Homo sapiens: one gene and its partners. The protein of the gene in region 4 interacts with the protein of the main gene of each other region in a biochemical or structural test. Each region holds a gene or a part of one and is shown on either strand. Other genes may lie near its edges.

Evidence for each region.
Region 1: the proteins of HDAC3 (region 4) and GTF2I form a complex in vitro, tested with the Homo sapiens proteins (2 studies listed by BioGRID).
Region 2: the proteins of HDAC3 (region 4) and CCN5 form a complex in vitro, tested with the Homo sapiens proteins (one study listed by BioGRID).
Region 3: the proteins of HDAC3 (region 4) and NR2C1 form a complex in vitro, tested with the Homo sapiens proteins (4 studies listed by BioGRID).

What each region holds. Positions count from the first base shown.
Region 1 is NC_000007.14:74,754,590-74,758,717, forward strand, and holds part of GTF2I (general transcription factor II-I), read left to right. Parts: intron 1-919; coding exon 920-948; intron 949-2,230; coding exon 2,231-2,272; intron 2,273-3,369; coding exon 3,370-3,411; intron 3,412-4,128. UniProt on the Homo sapiens protein: Interacts with the basal transcription machinery by coordinating the formation of a multiprotein complex at the C-FOS promoter, and linking specific signal responsive activator complexes.
Region 2 is NC_000020.11:44,713,402-44,718,168, forward strand, and holds the start of CCN5 (CCN family member 5 isoform 1 precursor), read left to right. Parts: upstream 1-1,967; 5' UTR 1,968-1,989; coding exon 1,990-2,049; intron 2,050-3,223; exon of another isoform or gene 3,224-3,392; intron 3,393-4,767.
Region 3 is NC_000012.12:95,070,819-95,075,548, reverse strand, and holds the start of NR2C1 (nuclear receptor subfamily 2 group C member 1), read left to right. Parts: upstream 1-1,930; 5' UTR 1,931-2,169; intron 2,170-4,730. UniProt on the Homo sapiens protein: Orphan nuclear receptor. Binds the IR7 element in the promoter of its own gene in an autoregulatory negative feedback mechanism. Primarily repressor of a broad range of genes.
Region 4 is NC_000005.10:141,623,115-141,627,604, reverse strand, and holds part of HDAC3 (histone deacetylase 3), read left to right. Parts: intron 1-1,321; coding exon 1,322-1,411; intron 1,412-1,533; coding exon 1,534-1,592; intron 1,593-1,840; coding exon 1,841-1,920; intron 1,921-2,239; coding exon 2,240-2,397; coding exon of another isoform or gene 2,398-2,485; exon of another isoform or gene 2,486-2,743; intron 2,744-4,490. UniProt on the Homo sapiens protein: Histone deacetylase that catalyzes the deacetylation of lysine residues on the N-terminal part of the core histones (H2A, H2B, H3 and H4), and some other non-histone substrates.

The sequences.
Region 1 (4,128 bases), on a different chromosome or scaffold from region 4:
GGGAGGCTGAGGCAGGATAGTCGCTTGAACCCAGGAGGTGGAGGTTGCAATGAGCCAAGATCATGCCACTGCACTCCAGCCTGGACGACAGAGTGAGACTCCATCACAAGAAAAAAAGAACTTTGTCAACCTCTGTCTTAGGGCGCCTTGTCACAGGCTTCGGGTCAGACGGATTCAACCTTGCATCAGCCATTTGTTAGCCAGGTCACTCTGTTCTTTGTCTGTAAATGAGATTGATCGTTGTTCCCACTGAGAGTGTCAGCTCCTTCCCGTAGAGCAGGCATGATGATTGTACTCACCTCTGACACCATTGTGAGTGCCACATTCCTTCCCACGTCCTTGTCACTGTAAGAGATGCCCACCTGAGCACCAACCCCAGGTTATCTTCCCCTTTGTCTTCCAGCCCCCCAGAAACAGCTACGACTCAACCTACCCAATCATTTCATCATCAGATTGCCACTGTCTCTAGTTCAGGTCTCTTGGAACTGGCACTCAGAAATCTCATAATAAATCCTCTTGAGGCTTCTCATACACTCGTCTTCTTCCAATCTTCTTTCCCTCAAAATCTCATATTTTGGTTCCACTTCACCCACCGTCATTCTCCATATCACTCCCAGGAGTTAGGCAAAAAGCCCCTTCCGTTCTTCCGTATGTTAAACTTAGAATCACTCTGTTCCCTGCTCTGCGTTTCTATTTTTTGTTTTTCCTCCATTTACTAGTAGCTTAACACTTTCTAACAGTGTTCTTATTATTGATACGTATCTATCTCTTCCATAAGCTTATAAGGTCACGGATAATACTTCTCATTGTAGTACGTAAATGACGTGGGCTAGATATGAGTTGAATAAACAGTTATACCTGTAAATTCTTACAGAGTGAAAATAAATTGTTATACTTTACAATTTGTTTCTCTCTTTAGACCATTTCCAGGACTTGTGATTAATAACCGTGAGTATTTTGTGAAGTGTTTTGTTTTTGTTTTTTCCTGGGGTCTGACGTGTGTGCGTGTGAGTGTGTATACATGCTTAACGTATATCACGTTACTTCACCTATGTCAGTAACCAGGCCAAATACTTGTTTTAGCCCTCAGTAAAAACACCAGGCACTTCCTAGTTGTAAAATTATTCAAGCTTCTTAACTTCCTATCCTCGATGCACTTAATCATAAAATGGTAATAATAGCACCGATTTTGGGGGAGTCGTTCCAGTAGATGGAAAGCATCTGGAACAGGTGTCAGCAAGCTCCTGCCGACGTGTATGCATAAAGTTTTATTGAAACCACCATCGTGTCCATTTGTTTATGGCAGAACTGAGAGATGGCAGCAGCAAGTGTGTGCCTGCAAAACCTAAAATATTTACTAATTGGCTCTGCAAGAAAAGAGTTTGCATCCCCCTAACCTAGAACAGTGTCTAGCCTCTAGTATGTGTTTAGCCTACAGTATGTGCTCAGCGAATACAATCTATATTTATTACTGCTTTTATGACTGTTATAATTACTGTGCTTGGATTTCGTTACAAAGTAAGTCACAATGTGCCTGCTTCTGTTAGTATTTCAGCACAGTGCCTGGCACACATGGGGCTCTCAAATATTGCTGAGCGAGTGAACAAATGTCCTTTCAATTCCTTAACGTTGATGTCATTTTCAATAGTATTTTGAGCCAAACTTAATTTTGCGAGTGTGTTTTGTTTTCTTAACTTTATTATTAAAAATGTATAAAAGTGAGGCCAGGCGTGGTGGCTCACGCCTGTAATCCCAGCAGTTTGGGAGGCTGAGGCAGGCGGATCAGTTGAGGTTGGGAGTTGGAGACCAGCCCGTCCAACATGGTGAAAGCCTGTCTCTACTAAAAATACAAAAATCAGCTGGGTGTGGTGGCACGTGCCTGTAATCCCAGCTACTCAGGAGGCTGAGGCAGGAGAGTTGCTTGAATCCTAGAGGTGGAGGTTGCAGTGAGCTGAGATCGTGCCATTGCACTCCAGCCTGGGCAACAAGAGCAAAACTCTGTCCCAATAAATAAATAAATAAAATGTTCTCTTTTGTTCCTGTTCTTGTGCGGTAGTGTGGTATAGAGTTTTATGGTAATTACTGTGAATTAGTGATTCTGAGGGACATATCAGAACTCTGAGGTTTGTTTCCTTCTCATCTTGAGGGAAACAGCAAATGTATGTTAAAATGCTTTTCCAAGGGAACAACACATCCTTACATTATTTAAACCAATCTGCTTCATTTTCAGAGCTGGTTGATCAGAGTGAGTCAGAAGGCCCCGTGATACAAGGTGAGCGAGGCAGGGGAGGGCCCGGAGCTACTCCTGCCTGCACAGTGGCACAATGGCGTGCCTGCGTGTGGCTTTGGCTCTCAGTCACCTGCCCTGAGGGGACTCAGTTACACAGCACACACATGCTTCTCTGTGGTTTTCACTCCTGGGTTTGACAGCTGATCAAAACATAAATTCAAGCTGTGGGTCCTGATTGAGAACTGGGGGCTGCAGACCATTTGCACCCCCTATCCCAGCTCAGGCCTAACATCAGGAACCCCAGGATTAATGGGTAGGATGAAATGGCAGAGCAAGAGGGCCGTCACTTTAACCTGACTCTGCCATCCATTTCTAATGTCTGCCATAAGTCAGTGAGCAAAATGTTCTTCAGTAGAAATGTACACATTGTGCTCTTAAAAAATTCCTTAAAAAACAAGTGGAATGGCCTGGTGCTGTGTGAGTCATTGAAAGTAATGAGACTGGGCGCGGTGGCTCACGCCTGTTATCCCAGCACTTTGGAAGGCTGAGAAGGGTAGATCACTTGAGATCAGGAGTTCGAGACCAGCCTGGCCAACATGGTGCAACCCCGTCTCTACTAAGAATACAAAAACTAGCCAGACGTGGTGGCGTGTGCCGGCTACTCAGGAGGCTGAGGCAGGAGAACCGCTTGAGCCTGGGAGGCGGAGGTCGCAGTGAGCCAAGATCGTGCCACTGCACTCCAGCCTGGGCAACAGAAAGGAGATTCTGTCTCAAAAAAACAAACATACGAAGAAAAACAAAAAAAGTAATGAAAAGCTTTTATTAAAGGGAGTAAACAGAAGGATAAGGGAGAAAGCATAACTAAGGAGCTTGTTTTCATGGTAGAGCTATGTTAAGACTCTGCTCTTTCAAACTTCAGTTGCATATGTGAACTTAGGACCACATTTGAAAAACAGAAATTTGAAAGTACACTTGGATAATCGTGTGCTCCATCTCAAGACCGTGAGCATTGTTTCATCATGCACCTGTGTTTGTACAGAGTCTAGAGGGCTTTTCTCCTCTTCCTCCTCCTGGGTTCTTTACATAGTATAAAGCAGCTGTTGAACAATGTGGAAATCAGTCTCTGTGTTTCTCTTTAGAATCAGCTGAACCAAGCCAGTTGGAAGTTCCAGCCACAGAAGGTAAAAGGGTGGGGTGGTCCTGCAAGTCCTTAAGACTTCTTCTTTCTTCTTCTTCTTTTTTTTTTTTTTAAAGACAGAGACTTGCTCTGTCACCCAGGGTGGAGTGAGGTTGCGCGATCTCTGCAACCTCCGCCTCCCGGGCTCAAGCAGTTCTCCTGCCTCAGCCTCCCGAGTAGCTGGGATTACAGGCCTGCACCACCATGCTTGGCTAATTTTTGTATTTTTAGTAGAAACGGGGTTTCACCATGTTGGCCAGGCTAGTCTCAGACTTCTGACCTCAAGTGATCCGCCAGCCTTGGCCTCCAAAGTGCTCGGATTACAGGCGCGAGCCACCTTGCCCAGCCAAGACTTTTTTATCAGGACAAAGGATTGTGCATTTAAACTATTTCACTAGAACTGGGTGGTGGTTTTGCTCTCTTTCTTCTGGGTGAATTGGATTTGCAGGTTATGCTGTTGAGTGATGACGCATAGCTGCTTTTGCTCCATTTCCCCCAGATGACTTGGTAAATTCTCCGTGAATGACTCTGCTACATAACCTAGATAACCTAACGTGTGTCCTTTAAATGCATGTAAGCCAGAAGATGTATGTTACTTTGAAAACATAAGTAACAAAATTTTGAATGTATTGCTAAAGAGATGTCTCTCTGAAGCTCTTTTGATGTTTGGTGTCTTGTCCTTCTTATTAAACCATATCTTAGTAAATAGTTTGGTACGAAT
Region 2 (4,767 bases), on a different chromosome or scaffold from region 4:
TCCTGATCTCAGGTGGTTCTCCCACTTTGGCCTCCCAAATTACAGACGTGAGCCACCGGCCCAGCTGTATTTCTGTGTTTAAACAGTAGAGTGAAATCAACTATGAACGCAGAATGATGGGAAAGATGACGATAAGGGTATTTCAATTTTGTCATTTTACGAAACTACTTGGAGTTTTGATTTGTATTTACAGTTTTTAAAAGAGTAAAACAGTGTGAACTGTGAATGGTAATGATTTTGTTTGGTAAGTGCAAATTTTAATTCATACATGAAAAATATTTGTTTTGTTTCATGATTATTACTGAAAATAATTTTGTACTATGAAGGAAGAGGGGTGTTAAAAATGATCCACTGTGGATGTAAATTATTCTAGGCATGCTTCTGACTAAAACATTAGCATTTCCACAAGAATCCCAAAAAATAAAACAAAATTTAAAAGATCCCTTCTGTTTCTTTTCCTCCAAGTTTCCAGACCCCCATCTCCACCCTGGCCACCTCTTCCTGCCATAAATAATCAAATCCCACACTTTCATCTTCACCTTCCGTTTCCATTGCCTCTTCCGATGGGACAGCACCCGTGGGGAATCTCCTCCATGCTCACAATCCCCGTCTTGCCACTATATCAAGTCACACTTCTTCCTCACCAATCGCCCATTCTGGAACCTCTGCTATCCAGCTAGATCACTTTGAGGTTTGGACAACTACTGGTGGAGGTAATGGGGGCCCCAGACAGCCCTTGACATCACCTCTTTTATCTTTGCCAAATTCTACAAACAAAGCCCATGTCTTTCTGTCCCCCGCCCCCATGGCTGGCACATAGTAGATGTCCCCAAATCTTGGTGATGTGAACTTGTGTGTCTCACCCTTCACAGACATCACCATTTCCCGTTGCACAGAAGGCTCCACTCATACCAGGCGCTTTGGCTCCCAGAATAAGCAGGCTATCATGCTATGTCCGACATCTAGGCGTTGGTACGTACTGTTCCCTTGGCCTGGAACATTCTGCCCTCTCTCACCCTCTCTTTTCTTGGCTTTCTGAAATGGCACCTCCATCAGAAAGTGTCCCTCACTCTTGGTCTGAGCAAGGGACCTTGCCTGGTATTCCTGAACTTCCACCTGTTTTCCCTCTGTTTTCTCCCTCTCTGGGCCTTGTCCTCAGGTCAGTGTTGTGCCTCCAGCTCCTGCAGAGGCGAACTCAGAGGCGGCCGAATGAAACCAAATGGATTTGGCTTGACCCCATCATCTAGCGGTGCCCAGCAAGCGCTGGCACATAGTAGGTCCAGCCTGCCCGGACTCGCCCACCACGGGCCCCCTTCCAGAGCCGGGAGGCAGGCCAAGGGAGGCCCCTTATTGCCAAGAGCAAACAGGCCGCCCAGGGAAGTTTTGCTCTGGGTCACACCCACCTCTGGGTGGCTGCCAATCTGCCTGCCAGAAACCGCAGGCTGGGCCGCGGCTACCCAGAGTCAGGGCCACGGAGCTTAGGAGACCTTGGGTCAGCTCTGCAAAGGGGTTGTTTACTGAATGCTTCTGGTATCTGCAGCCCCGCTGGGGTTCGGACAGGGGGTCTGGAATAGGGCTTCACAACTACAGCAGGGCTAGGACCCTCTTGGGCTGGAAGGAGCTGGAGAGGCCTCTGCAAGCTGTCACAGGCTCTTGGTGCTGGCACTGGCTCAGGCTTTCACACACACACACGCGCACACACACACACACACACACACGGACAGGCACCCCCTTGGTGGCCTTCACAGTTTCACCTTCAGGTAAATGGGCTCATCCTTTGAGCCATGAGGATGGGAAGCGAAGCAAGGAATGAAAAAGCTAGTGTGTTTGTGTGTGTGTGTGTGTGTGTGTGTGTGTGTGAGCGCGCGCGCGCGCGCGCGTGTGTACTCGTGCGTGTGCCTGTGTGTGCCTGGGAGTGACCTCACAGCTGCCGGAACATAAAGACTCACAGGTCCGCCTCCCAGGCTCAAAGCTGGCTCTGCAGGGGACATGAGAGGCACACCGAAGACCCACCTCCTGGCCTTCTCCCTCCTCTGCCTCCTCTCAAAGGTAAGGAGGCCCGGGCCCTGGAATGCACTGCTGACTATTTGGGTGTGGAGGGGGTGGGGATGTAAAATCGCAGCCAAGGACCCCCTTGGCAGAATTCCTCCAGGGCCCCACATTGGGCACAGTCTGGCCCCCATGCCTAAGCAGGGCTTCTCTCCCTGGAACTCAGAGCTGCCTCCGGCCAGCCCTGCTGTGTGACCTCAGATATGTGTCTTGCCTTCTCTGGGCCTCAGCATCTTCCCAGGTGAAGGGTATACAGTTTGTGAGGCCTCTGTGAAGACCATTCATGATCATTCATCAAACTTACCAGGCAAATTGAAGAGGACTTTAATGTATCCTCATTATGAATGGGGGCACTCAAGACATGACATGCTTGGCCTAACTCTGAGCCAGCATTTGGATGGATGCCTAGCTGATTGGAAGGTTCATTCTGCAAGGGCATCAATGCTGTTGGACTCTTAGGCAGTGAGTGACCCGCCCGCCCTAGCTAGAGGGGAACAGGAGACACCTCTGTGGAGTAATGGCCTTATCCCTGAATGCTGCATGGGACATTCACCAAAGAGCCTGTGGGACATCTACCTTGTCTAACATGCACAACAATCCCATAAGGAATTTTCAGTTAAGTGAGGCTCAGAAAGGGTAAGCAACTTGCAACCCCAGTTTTCAGTCAAGTGAGGCTCAGAAAGGGTAAGCAACTTGCCCAAAGCCACACAGCAAAGAAAGGTCAGAGCAATAGAGGAGAGCCATGGTGGAGCCCAGAATGACATGGATGTAGGGGGAGAAGCACTCCAGTCTGTGCCTCCCCAAGCCCAAACTGGACCAAGGCCACAGCTGCTAAGCCTTGTCATCCCCTCGGCAAATGCTGAGTTCCCAGAGCCATGGAATCGGCCCCACCACAAGCCACGATCTCACTGTATTTTCACGCTCCTTTGAGGAGCACGGGCAGGAGCTTCTCTCCCTCAGGCTCCAAGTCTTCGTGCCTGGGAAGCCTGAGAACCACGCTGGCATCCTGTCCTGCTGTTTGTTCTTCCAAAGGGGATGGGTAGGGCATGATGCCAGTGTGGGTGGCTTGGGTAGTTGGAATAGGGGACTTGGGGCTCTAGGAGGGAGAAGGGGCCCAGGATTATACGAGAACAAAGTAAAGCTGTCCTAGACTTGCCATTAGGGTGAGACTTACGGGACCATTCTTCCCTGGTCCCAGGAAGCAGGGACTGCACAGAAACACAGGGACTTAGTCACCACAACATGGAAAGCCACAGCAACCCTCAGAGGGAGAACTGTAAGTCTTCCAGGCTGGCCGTTGGCTCCGGGGCTCCTGGCTGTGGACCGGGGCAGGAGGCAGACACCTGGACACAAGCAAAATCACATTGATCAAGGACTGGCCAGAACCTCATTTAATCTCCATCATCACTCAGAAACAGGTTGTCTCTACTCCAGTTTACAGAGGAGAAAACTGAGCTTCACCTCCACCTTCCAAAGCCGTTTGTCCACATGTTCAGTCACGTAGCAAGTCACTGGCAGAACTTGAATCTCAACTCTTGCCCAAAAAACTCCATGCCCAGTACTCCTGCCCCAGATATCATGAGCCTTGCCCCCCACCACCAGATATCACAGCAAGGCCCTGGGGAAACTGAGGCACAATGGGACAACTTGAGTTTGGGCCTTGGATGTCAACTTGAACTTGGATGTCAATCCTGATTCTGTCTCTTACTGGCTGTGTTACTACACGGTTTGAGCTCCAGTTTTCTCATCTTTAAAATGGGCATAATGATGGCACCTCACATTGGAGGGGTAAATGAGACAACAGCACTTGGCACATGACATACATATGGTATCACATGAGATAATTGTACACTAGAATAGTTGATATCATTAATAGCCTCTCCTGGGTATCGGGGCCTACAGAGTCCTGCCCCCTGACAAGCATGGCCAGTAGAGGGGTCCACAGTGGGAGCCAAGGTGCACAGCTGCTGGTCTATTTCCTGGCACTCCTGTTTTCAGGTGGGAGGGACCTGAGAGTCATTTCTGACAGTCCTCCCTCCATTGCCCACAAGCCAAGGGAGCTGAACCTCTGACTTAGAAGGGAACCCAAAAGCCTAGACCGTTTCTATGTGAATCACCTGTGGATTTATGAAAATGCAGATTCGGGCTGGGCGTGGTGGCTCATGCCTGTAATCCCAGCACTTTGGGAGGCCGAGGTGGGTGGATCATGAGGTCAGGAGTTTGAGACCAGCCTGGCCAGCATGGTGAAACCCCGTCTCTACTAAAAATACAAAAAATTAGCTGGGCATGGTGGCATGCACCTGTAATCCTAGCTACTTGGGAGGCTGAGGCCTCCCAAGAATTGCTTGAACCTGGGAGGCGAAGGTTGCAGTGAGTCGAGATCGTGCCACTGCACTCCAGCCTAGGTGACAGAGCAAGACTCCATCTCAAAAAAGAAAAAAAAAAAAAAGAAAGAAAAAGAAAAGAAAATGCAGATTCGGATTTATTATATAAAAATTCAGCTTCGGATTTATAGAGGGGCTCCAGATGCTGCCTCTCTGACAAGCTCCTAGATGACGCTGCTGCTGCTAGTTCAGACCACACCTTGAGGGGCGAGGCTAGGCCATCGTCTCTAGAATCTGAACAGCCTGCAGCGATGGGATCCACTCCCTTGTGAGGCAGCCAGACACCTAGCTCCGTGTGTCCATCTGCTACTCAGTGCTGTCTCAGTGGGGGCTG
Region 3 (4,730 bases), on a different chromosome or scaffold from region 4:
TGAGAGTAAAATGAAATTGCCTAAGGACTCATTTCTCAGAACATATCCCTGACGTGACTATACTTTCATAATTTTCACCTTTGGGACCAGCTTATGGTATTGGCAGGGGTCTCCCTTAAAACCAAACCAAATACACAACAAATAATGCTAAAAGGTAGAGGTTGGAAAAAAAAAAAAGTTTCACTCTCGCCCAGGCTGGAATGCAATGGTGCCAACACTGGACCAGACTCCTGGGCTTAAGCAATCCTCCCACCTCAGCCTCCTCAGTAACTAGGAATACAGGCCTGCACCACCATGCCTTTTTTTTTTCTTTTTTTTTTAAGAGATGGAGTCTCACTATGTTGCCCAGGCTGGTCTCAAACTCCTGGCATCAAGCAAGCCTCCTACCTCAGCCTCCCAAGGCTCTGGGGGCAGAAGCCACTGTGCTCAGCAGAGGTGGATTTTTAATGAGGGATAAAGCATATTTTTACTTGTTAGGGATTGTTTCATGCCTTGATCTCTGTCCGTCTGCCTAGTTCCAGAGAGAAATAACAGAGATGTTCTCATTCCCAGCAAACGTTTGTTTTTCCTTCCTTGGATTTCTGCCCTGAGTTTGTGGCTGCTTTCCTACAGTGCCGACCTAAGCTAGATAAAATAGAAATTTCATGACAAAACAAAGGAGATTTAAAAAAAAACTAGAAATTTCAAGAATGCTTCAAAATCTAAAGCGCAGAGTACTTTGCACACAGGGCAGTTATTCCTGCCACACCTTGCCACTACAGGTGGCCACTGTCAGAATGCGATGTTCCACCAATGTCTCTTCATTTCACAATTTGAAAAATTTTTTTTGTGGAGGCAGGGTTTTGTTATCTTGCCCAAGCCGGTCTCCAACTGCTGGCCCCAAGTGATCTTTCCTTGGCCTCCCAGCAGCCACTTGCCTGGCTTTCATTTCATACATCATTATTGAATAGCAGGCATTGTCCTATGTGCTTGGTAATACATCACTGAGCAAAACAGACAAAAAACGGCCATTGAGGATAATCCTCAATATATAATAATATATATATTATAGAGAGGATGTGGAATATACATATATATGTGTGTGTGTATATATAGAGAGAGAGAGAAAGACTCATTGTGTCACCCAGGCTGGAGTGCGGTGGTGTGATCTTGGCTCACTGCCGTCTTGACTCAGGTGATCCTCCCACCTCAGCCTCCAAGTAATTGGGACGACAGGCACGCGCCACCAGGACTGGCTAATTTTTTTGTAGAGACGGGTTTTCGCCATGTTGGCCAGGCTGGCCTCAAACAACCGGGCTCAAGTGATCCGTCCGCCTCGGCCTCCCAACTTGCTGGGATTACAGGCGTGAGCTACCGTGCCCAGTCTCTAGTGATTATATTCTTGCCCTGTTTAGCCATTATGTCTCTTTACTCACAACAGTTTATAAGTGAAACTTTGCCTTACCATTTGCATGAGTCGGCCTCAGCTTGTCATTATATATAAAGCTTACTAATGTAAATGACGAGTTAATGGGTGCAGCACACCAACATGGCACATGTATACATATGTAACGAACCTGCACGTTGTGTACATGTACTCTAGAACTTAAAGTGTAATACAAAAAAAAAAAAGTTTAAATATGATTGGACTCTACCCCAGAGCCCAGTTTTCCAGAAATTAGAAACAGATATGCCTAAGACCCAGAGGGTTATTTATTACTCAAATCTAAAACGTTGACTCAAAACCTCCCCTAATGCCCACCTTTGGCAAACGATGCTTAAACCTTTGCACGTGGCTTCAAAAATTACCTGGCTGGGAACGCGTAGCTCTGGCGGGGCACTCTGCCTCCAAGCCAAAAGGGGGCAGTGGACTCACAGAGCCGCTGCTCGGCCCTCCGATCCCTCCACCCCACCCTGGGAACGTCACGACCTCCTCTCGCCGCTTCTCCCCGTTGCTAATGCGCAGGCGCTGGCGGGATAGCGCGCCGCCGAGCCGAGAAAGAGGTCACGAACTCTGACCCCCCAGAAATACCCAAACACAGAAAGCTCTCTCCGCCGTGAATCTCGATCCCACATCCCGTCGGCTTTCTTCAACCTCTCTTCCCGGAGCGCCCCCCAATCCACGAGTGGCAGCCGCGGGACTGTCGCGTCGGCGCCCGACGCCGGAGTCAGCAGGGCGCAAAAGCGCCGGTAAGAAACGCTGGGTGGGGACACCAGCGACCGCGTCGGGGGCGGGGGCCAGGGGGTGCCCTTCACCCCAACCGCCAACGGACGCGGTCCCAGCGCATCCCCCGGCCGGCGTCCTGCGGCCAGCGGAGCCGTTCAGTTTGGGAGCGCCGCTTGGGGCTGCTCGACTTCGGCTGGGAGCGCGGAGCTGCGGCGCCAAATGCGCGGGGCCCCGGGAGAGGCGGGGGCGACAGGGGCGGCGGGACGCGGGGCCGGACGGCGAGCGGCTTGGAGCACACAACCCCCTTTCCAGCTGCGCTTACCGCAGCGCCTCTGACCTTTAACCTGCAGGGAAAGCTTCCGCGGCGCTGCAGCTTTCCCCGCCCGGGAGAGCCGCGCGCAGCGCCGGGGCTTCCAGGGCGCACGGCTAACGCCGGCACGAGTGAGACGTGGGAGAGGCCGACCCTCGGCTAGTGGCCGCAAGTCCCGGCCTGCATCCCGTCACTAACTCCCGTGCTTTCACGGGACGGACAGAATGACTCCCCCCACTTTCACTTTTCTCTCACGGCAAATCTGGCCAGGGTCGTCGCTGCCTGTGGGCCTGGATCTTTTCAGAAGAAATGGAACGGCCCCAGGGTTCTCACTGCAGGGGGCATGTCCAAGCTTCCGATAGATAGCTCTTTTGTTAAGAAATAATTCTTCCAACTCGGGCAGATACCATTTTTGTGCAGTACGAATGTTGCCAGGTTGTCCCATAATCTTCAGTAAGTAGGTCAGCCTTTAAAAAAGTAACCGGAAAGCAAAAGCAGAAAGACCTAAAATTACGGCCTTTAGGGTTTAGTACCGCTAGAATTTGTAAATGGACCTTCGATTTTGAGCTTTTTTGAACCATTTCTGCTGTGTGGTTGGTGATACTCGATTTTTTTTTCTTTTTTTTTTTTTTTTTTTGAGAGGGAGAGGGAGTCTCACTGTCGCCAAGCTGGAGTGCGGTGGCGCGATCTCGGCTCACTGCAACCTCCGCCTCCAGGTTCAAGCGATTCTCCTGTCTCAGCCTCCCGAGTAGCTGGGATTACAGACACGAGCCACCACACCCAGCTAGTTTTTTTGTTTTTGTTTTTGTTTTTGTTTTTTGTATTTTTAGTAGAGGTGGGGTTTCACTATGTTGGCCAGGATGGTCTTGATACTCTGACCTCGTGATGTACCCGCCTCTGATCCACCCGCCTCGGCCTCCCAAAGTACTGGGATTACAGGCGTGAGCCACCGCGCCCGGCCGATGATTGTTTTTAAACTTTGCTTTAAGTCCAGTTAGTATATCTGAAAAAGCGATGTGTATTTCTATCATTAAAAGTGGGTCGCGGCTGGGCGCGGTGGCTCACACCTGTAATCCCAGCACTTTGGGAGGCTGAGGTGGGCGGATCATCTGAAGTCGGGAGTTCGAGACCAGCCTGACCAACATGGAGAAACCCCGTTTCTACTAAAAATACAAAATTAGTCGGGCGTGGTGGCGCACACCTGTAATCCCAGCAACTCCGGAGGCCGAGGCAGGAGAATTGCTTGAACCCGGGAGGCGGAGGTTGCAGTGAGCTGAGATCGCGCCATTGCACTCCAGCCTGGGCAAGAAGAGCGAAACTCCGTCTCAAAAAAAAAAAAAAAAGTGGGTTTTATGAAATGTTGCTAATCTTAGTTTTTCAAGGGGCATGTTAGTTTCTTCTAGGAAAGGTTTTTTTGTTTTGTTTTATAGAAATGGTGGGGGGCCTCATTTTGTTATCCAGACAGATCTCTGGCCTCAAGCTATCCTCCTGCCTCAGCCTGTTGAGTAGCTGGAATTACAGGCACCGCATCTTAAGGAAGGATTTTGAGGGAGCAAACATCCCCAAACACACACCGTCTGTGTGTCTGCCACACAATGTATAATCCCTACTCTTGGGGAATAAAAACAAAACAGCATACAATAAATAATAGTATAAATATAATTCGTTGCCGTTTTTCAGTGACAAGACCATCTACAGCCTCTTGAAGTCTTTTATGAACTTGTCTAGAAAAATGCACCTTTAGATAAAATTTTACAGACAGTATTAGGAGTTAACAGAAATCTATTTCTGAATCCTAGCTAACAACCTTAGTCTACAAAATAATTGTTCGACCCTTCAAGAAAGACTGGGTAAAAAACTATTTGAATCAAAATTTTTTTTTTTTTTTTTTGAGACGGAGTTTTGCCCTTGTTTCCCAAGCTGGAGTGCAATGGCACGATCTCGGCTCACTGCAGCCTCCACCTCCCAGGTTCAAGCGATTCTCTTGCCTCAGCCTCCTGCATAGCTGGGATCACAGGCGCCGTCCACCACACCCGGCTAAATTTTTGTATTTTTCGTAGAGATGGGGTTTCACCATGTTGGCCAGGCTGGTCTTGGACTCTTGACCTCAGGTGATCCACGTGCCTTGGCCTCCCAAAGTGCTGGGATTACAGGCGTGAGCCATCGCCCCTGGCTTGAACCAAATCTTAAAAGTCAGGTGGAATTTAAATGAGGGAGAAAGTAGGAATATGTTGGGGGAATAAAGAACATCGTAGTTTGACCTGAACAGAGGCC
Region 4 (4,490 bases):
AATAATCAAATGAAATAAATAGATTCTTATAAATTCTGTGAAAGAAAAAAAGAAAGCTGAGACACAGGATACAATGGGGGACCTACTTGAGATAGCATGGTTTCGGAAAGTTTTTCTGAGGAAGTAAAATTTGAGTTGAGACCTGGAGACTAAGAAGGAGTGAGTCATAAGAGGAGCAGAGAGAAGCCTGACCCAAGCATGGACAAAGGCCCACAAAAGGCTCTGAGGGCTGGGCCCAGTGGCACACACCTATAATCCCAACACTTCCAGAGGCCAAGGTGGGAGAATCGCCTGAGGCTAGGAGTTTGAGGCCAGCCTGGGCAACATAGTGAGAGCCATCTCTACAGAAAATAAAAAACAAAATCAGCTGGGCATGATGGTGCATGCCTATAGTCCTAGCTACTCAGGAAGCTGAGGCAGGAGGATCACTTGAGCCTAGGAGTTTGAGGTTACAGTGAACTATGATTGTGCCACTGGACTTCAGTCTGTTGAGGTGAGGTCCGAGAAGCTGGCCATGGTGAGATTGTGCAGAGCCTTTAAACCCTGGTAAGGAGTTTGAATTATATTCCAAAGATGATGGGAAACCATTGAAGGATTTTAAGCAGGAAAGTGACATGATCCAATTTGTGTTTGAAAGTGACAATTCTGACTGCTGAATAGAGAAAGGTTTGGGTAGGGGGGATGGAGATGGAAGTAGAAAGACCAGTTAGGAAGCCATGGTGTTGGTTAGGTGCCCAGACTAAGGTGGAGGGGGTGGCAATGGAGAGAAGTAGATGATCTGAGAGGTGTGTGTGTGTGTGTGTGTATATATATATATATACACACACACACACACATATATATGTTTTTTTTTTTCTTTTTTGAGATGGAGTCTTGCTCTGTCACCCAGGCTGGAGTGCAGTGGCACGATCTTGGCTCAGTGCAAGCTCTGCCTCCTGGGTTCAAGCATTTCTCCTGCCTCAGCCTCCTGAGTAGCTGGGACTACTACAAAGGCGTGAGCACCGCGCCGGGCGTGAGTTATATTTTCAAGGCTAGAATTGACAGAACTTGGGTTGATGAGAATAGTTGATTAGCAGGCAGGGTGCCAGGGAGGGTGTTGAGCAGAACAGAGGGGGGACTGTGCTTTATTTTAAAATTTTTATTGAGACACAGCATATAAAGTATACCCAAATCTTAAGGGTATAACATAATGAATTTCACTATCAAGATAAAGATTTAGAACATTTATAGTTTTCTTGTGCTCCTTTCAGGCAATACCTAAAGGTATTTACCTTGTCTTTTGATAACCTCCTCCACATCTTCCTCTGGTTCCTTTTAACAGGGAATGCGTTGAATATGTCAAGAGCTTCAATATCCCTCTACTCGTGCTGGGTGGTGGTGGTTATACTGTCCGAAATGTTGCCCGCTGCTGGTGAGCACTCTCCTGATTTCCTCCCCTGTTGTCCAGTGTGAGCTAGGGTGTCCCTCAGATATGGCCACATGGGTCCTTCAGCCCACTTGGTCAGCCTGCTCCCCTCTGCTGGTTGGTTTCAGGACATATGAGACATCGCTGCTGGTAGAAGAGGCCATTAGTGAGGAGCTTCCCTATAGTGGTAAGGACCACCCCACAACACCCCCATAACAGGAAGGCCATTCTCACCAGATTCCAGAATGACCTGGTTTGAAGGCACATGGGAAATTTTACACTCTCAGAGCTCTGCAGACTAAACCCCTGGGCTCAGAGCAGGGAAGAGATTGGGCAGCTATTATGTAGGTGCTCTGGATGGGAAGGAAAAAGATTGGGAAGTCTTGTTAGCTGCCTTTCTCAGTCTGAGCCATACTTTCTCCTCTCCTCCCCAAGAATACTTCGAGTACTTTGCCCCAGACTTCACACTTCATCCAGATGTCAGCACCCGCATCGAGAATCAGAACTCACGCCAGGTCAGCAGCTCAGAAAAGCTGAGCACAAACTTCTCCTGAAAGGTGGAGCCCAGGAGAGGTCAAAGATGTGGGAAGTAGGAAAAACCAAAGAGAAGGAAGTTCTAAGCCATCACAGTCACTGTTATTGACTAGGAGGCAGTCCAGTTTAAAGTAGAGGCAGTTGGGGTTGGTGGGGAGGGAGAGCTATCAGTTGGGGGACCTGAACTAGAGGTACCACTGAGATGAAAACCAGTATGGTAGGGGTAAAAGGCAGCTAGGAGATTCCATGTCCTGGGAATCTCTGGAAACTGCTCACTCTGTATTCCTCATTTCCAACCAGTATCTGGACCAGATCCGCCAGACAATCTTTGAAAACCTGAAGATGCTGAACCATGCACCTAGTGTCCAGATTCATGACGTGCCTGCAGACCTCCTGACCTATGACAGGACTGATGAGGCTGATGCAGAGGAGAGGGGTCCTGAGGAGAACTATAGCAGGTCTGGGAGCAGGGACTTCAGCCTACTTTCAATAGGCTTGCTGGGGAGGTTTAAAAGGGAAAAAGTAAATGGGAAGGTATTAGTTTAATTGCCTCTGGCTTACCTCCTTTAGTCTGCTACAATTTCCTCACTCTTTTCTTTGTTATTTTTAATGACAAAAGTAACACGTATTTATTGCAAAATTTTAAAACAGCACCAAAATATGGTGTTGGCGTTCACACAATCCCAGACCTATTCCACAGGAGTAACCACTGTTAATAGTTTTTATTGTTTTGGATAGACCTTTTTCTATAGATTGCAAATATACTATTCTGTATGTACATATAAACAAACACATATACACTCATTTACAGTTTGTGTGGTTTTTGGTTTTTCGTAAATACAAATAGGGTCATTCTACGTATGCTGCTTTACATCATATAGCTGTTTTCAGCTAGCTAATATAGATCTGCTTCAGTATTTTATCAGCTGTATAATAATTTACTATGTGGATAGATTATTTTCCATTTTTTTGGTATTACAATAATAATGTGGCAATGAACCCCCTTACATTATACATCTTTGCATTCTTGTTTGAGTGGGTTAGATAGTAGAATGGTTGCTGCTAGGTCAAAGGCTGTGTGCATTAATTTTTTTTTTTTTTTTTTTTTTGAGACAGGGTCTCATTCTGTCACCCAGGCTGGAGTACAGTGGCATGATTATAGCTCACTGCAATCTTGAACTCCTGGGTTCAAGCGATCCTCCTGCCTCAGCCCCTCGAGTAGCTGGAATCATAGGTGTGCACCACGACACCTGGCTAATTTTTTTTTTTTTTTTTTTTTTTTTTTTTTTTTTTGGTAGAGACGGAGTCTTGCCTTGTTGCCCAGGCTGGTCTCAAACTCCTGGGCTCAAATGTCCTCCTGCCCCAGCCTTCCAAAGTGCTGGGATTATAGGCGTGAGCCACTGAGCCTGGCCTAAAATTTTTTATATTTGCTGCCAAATTGCCGTCCAGAAAGTCTGTAGCACCCTATAGTCTTGCCAGCATTTTTCTCAGTCTTTCCAGGTCTTGAGCTGGACAGGTCACTGCCTGCGTAATACTCTCTAAGGCTCTTTGATTTCTTTGCTCTGTTAATTTTTTCGGGTGGGATAATTGCATTGTGGTTATGTTTTTTTTTTTTTTTTAAAAGTCTTTATCTTTCTGAGATACATACAAAATATTTGTAGATGGAATGAATTAGGGGGGAAAAAGGATAGGATGGAATTTTTTTTTAATCCCAAAACTTTGCTGAAAAATGAAAGGGAAAGACAACAGAACCAAGAAGTGCAGAAACAGATGCACTTAATGGGGAACAGATTTCCTTACATGACTGAGGGATAACCACAGCTGGACACTTGTGGGACACGCTGTCTTGCTCCCACGCAGGGTTAGAGGTTTGAGCCGGCTCTGCTGCAGAGCCTGATGGGCTTCTCAGCCCCTTCTAGAATCTGCTTCTGTCTTAGAATTCAGGCCTCCGAATCTCTCCTCTGGACCTGGGCTTTACTGCTCTGACTCTTGGGGATCTCTGCAACTCTCTTCCTCCAAGGATATCCCCCGATCCCTTCTGAGTGAGGAAGTGTCTGAACATCTGGAAGTGTCTGGCTTCAGGGCTTCCAGGACTATTGGAAATTGCTTTTCATTGTCTGGTTTGGTTTGGTAAAACCTGTTTTTAAGTTCTTCCTTTTGGGTTTTTTATCAATAGCTCCAGGCTGGCATCTGGACCTAGTCTCTGCATTATAATAATACCAAGCCCTGTCACAGCCAGCAGAAGCCTCAGGCCTCTTCCTGTTCCTAAGCCCTACCTCTCTGTCAGGCCACCCACTGAGTTTCTGTTCTTCTTTGATGCCTATAGCTCCAGCTTGCATATGACTTGCAGAGTAGAAATAGGAAGAGTTACCACTTTTTGTAGGTTTGCCAAGCACCAGACACTACTAAGTGCTATCTATTACAACATATATATGATCATTCTGTTGCCATCAGACAACTCTGATGGCTCTTATTTTCAGATTAACACGGGAGGAATCTAAGGCTCAGAGAGTCTAAGTAACTTTCTTTCTTTCTTTTTTTTGAGACGGAG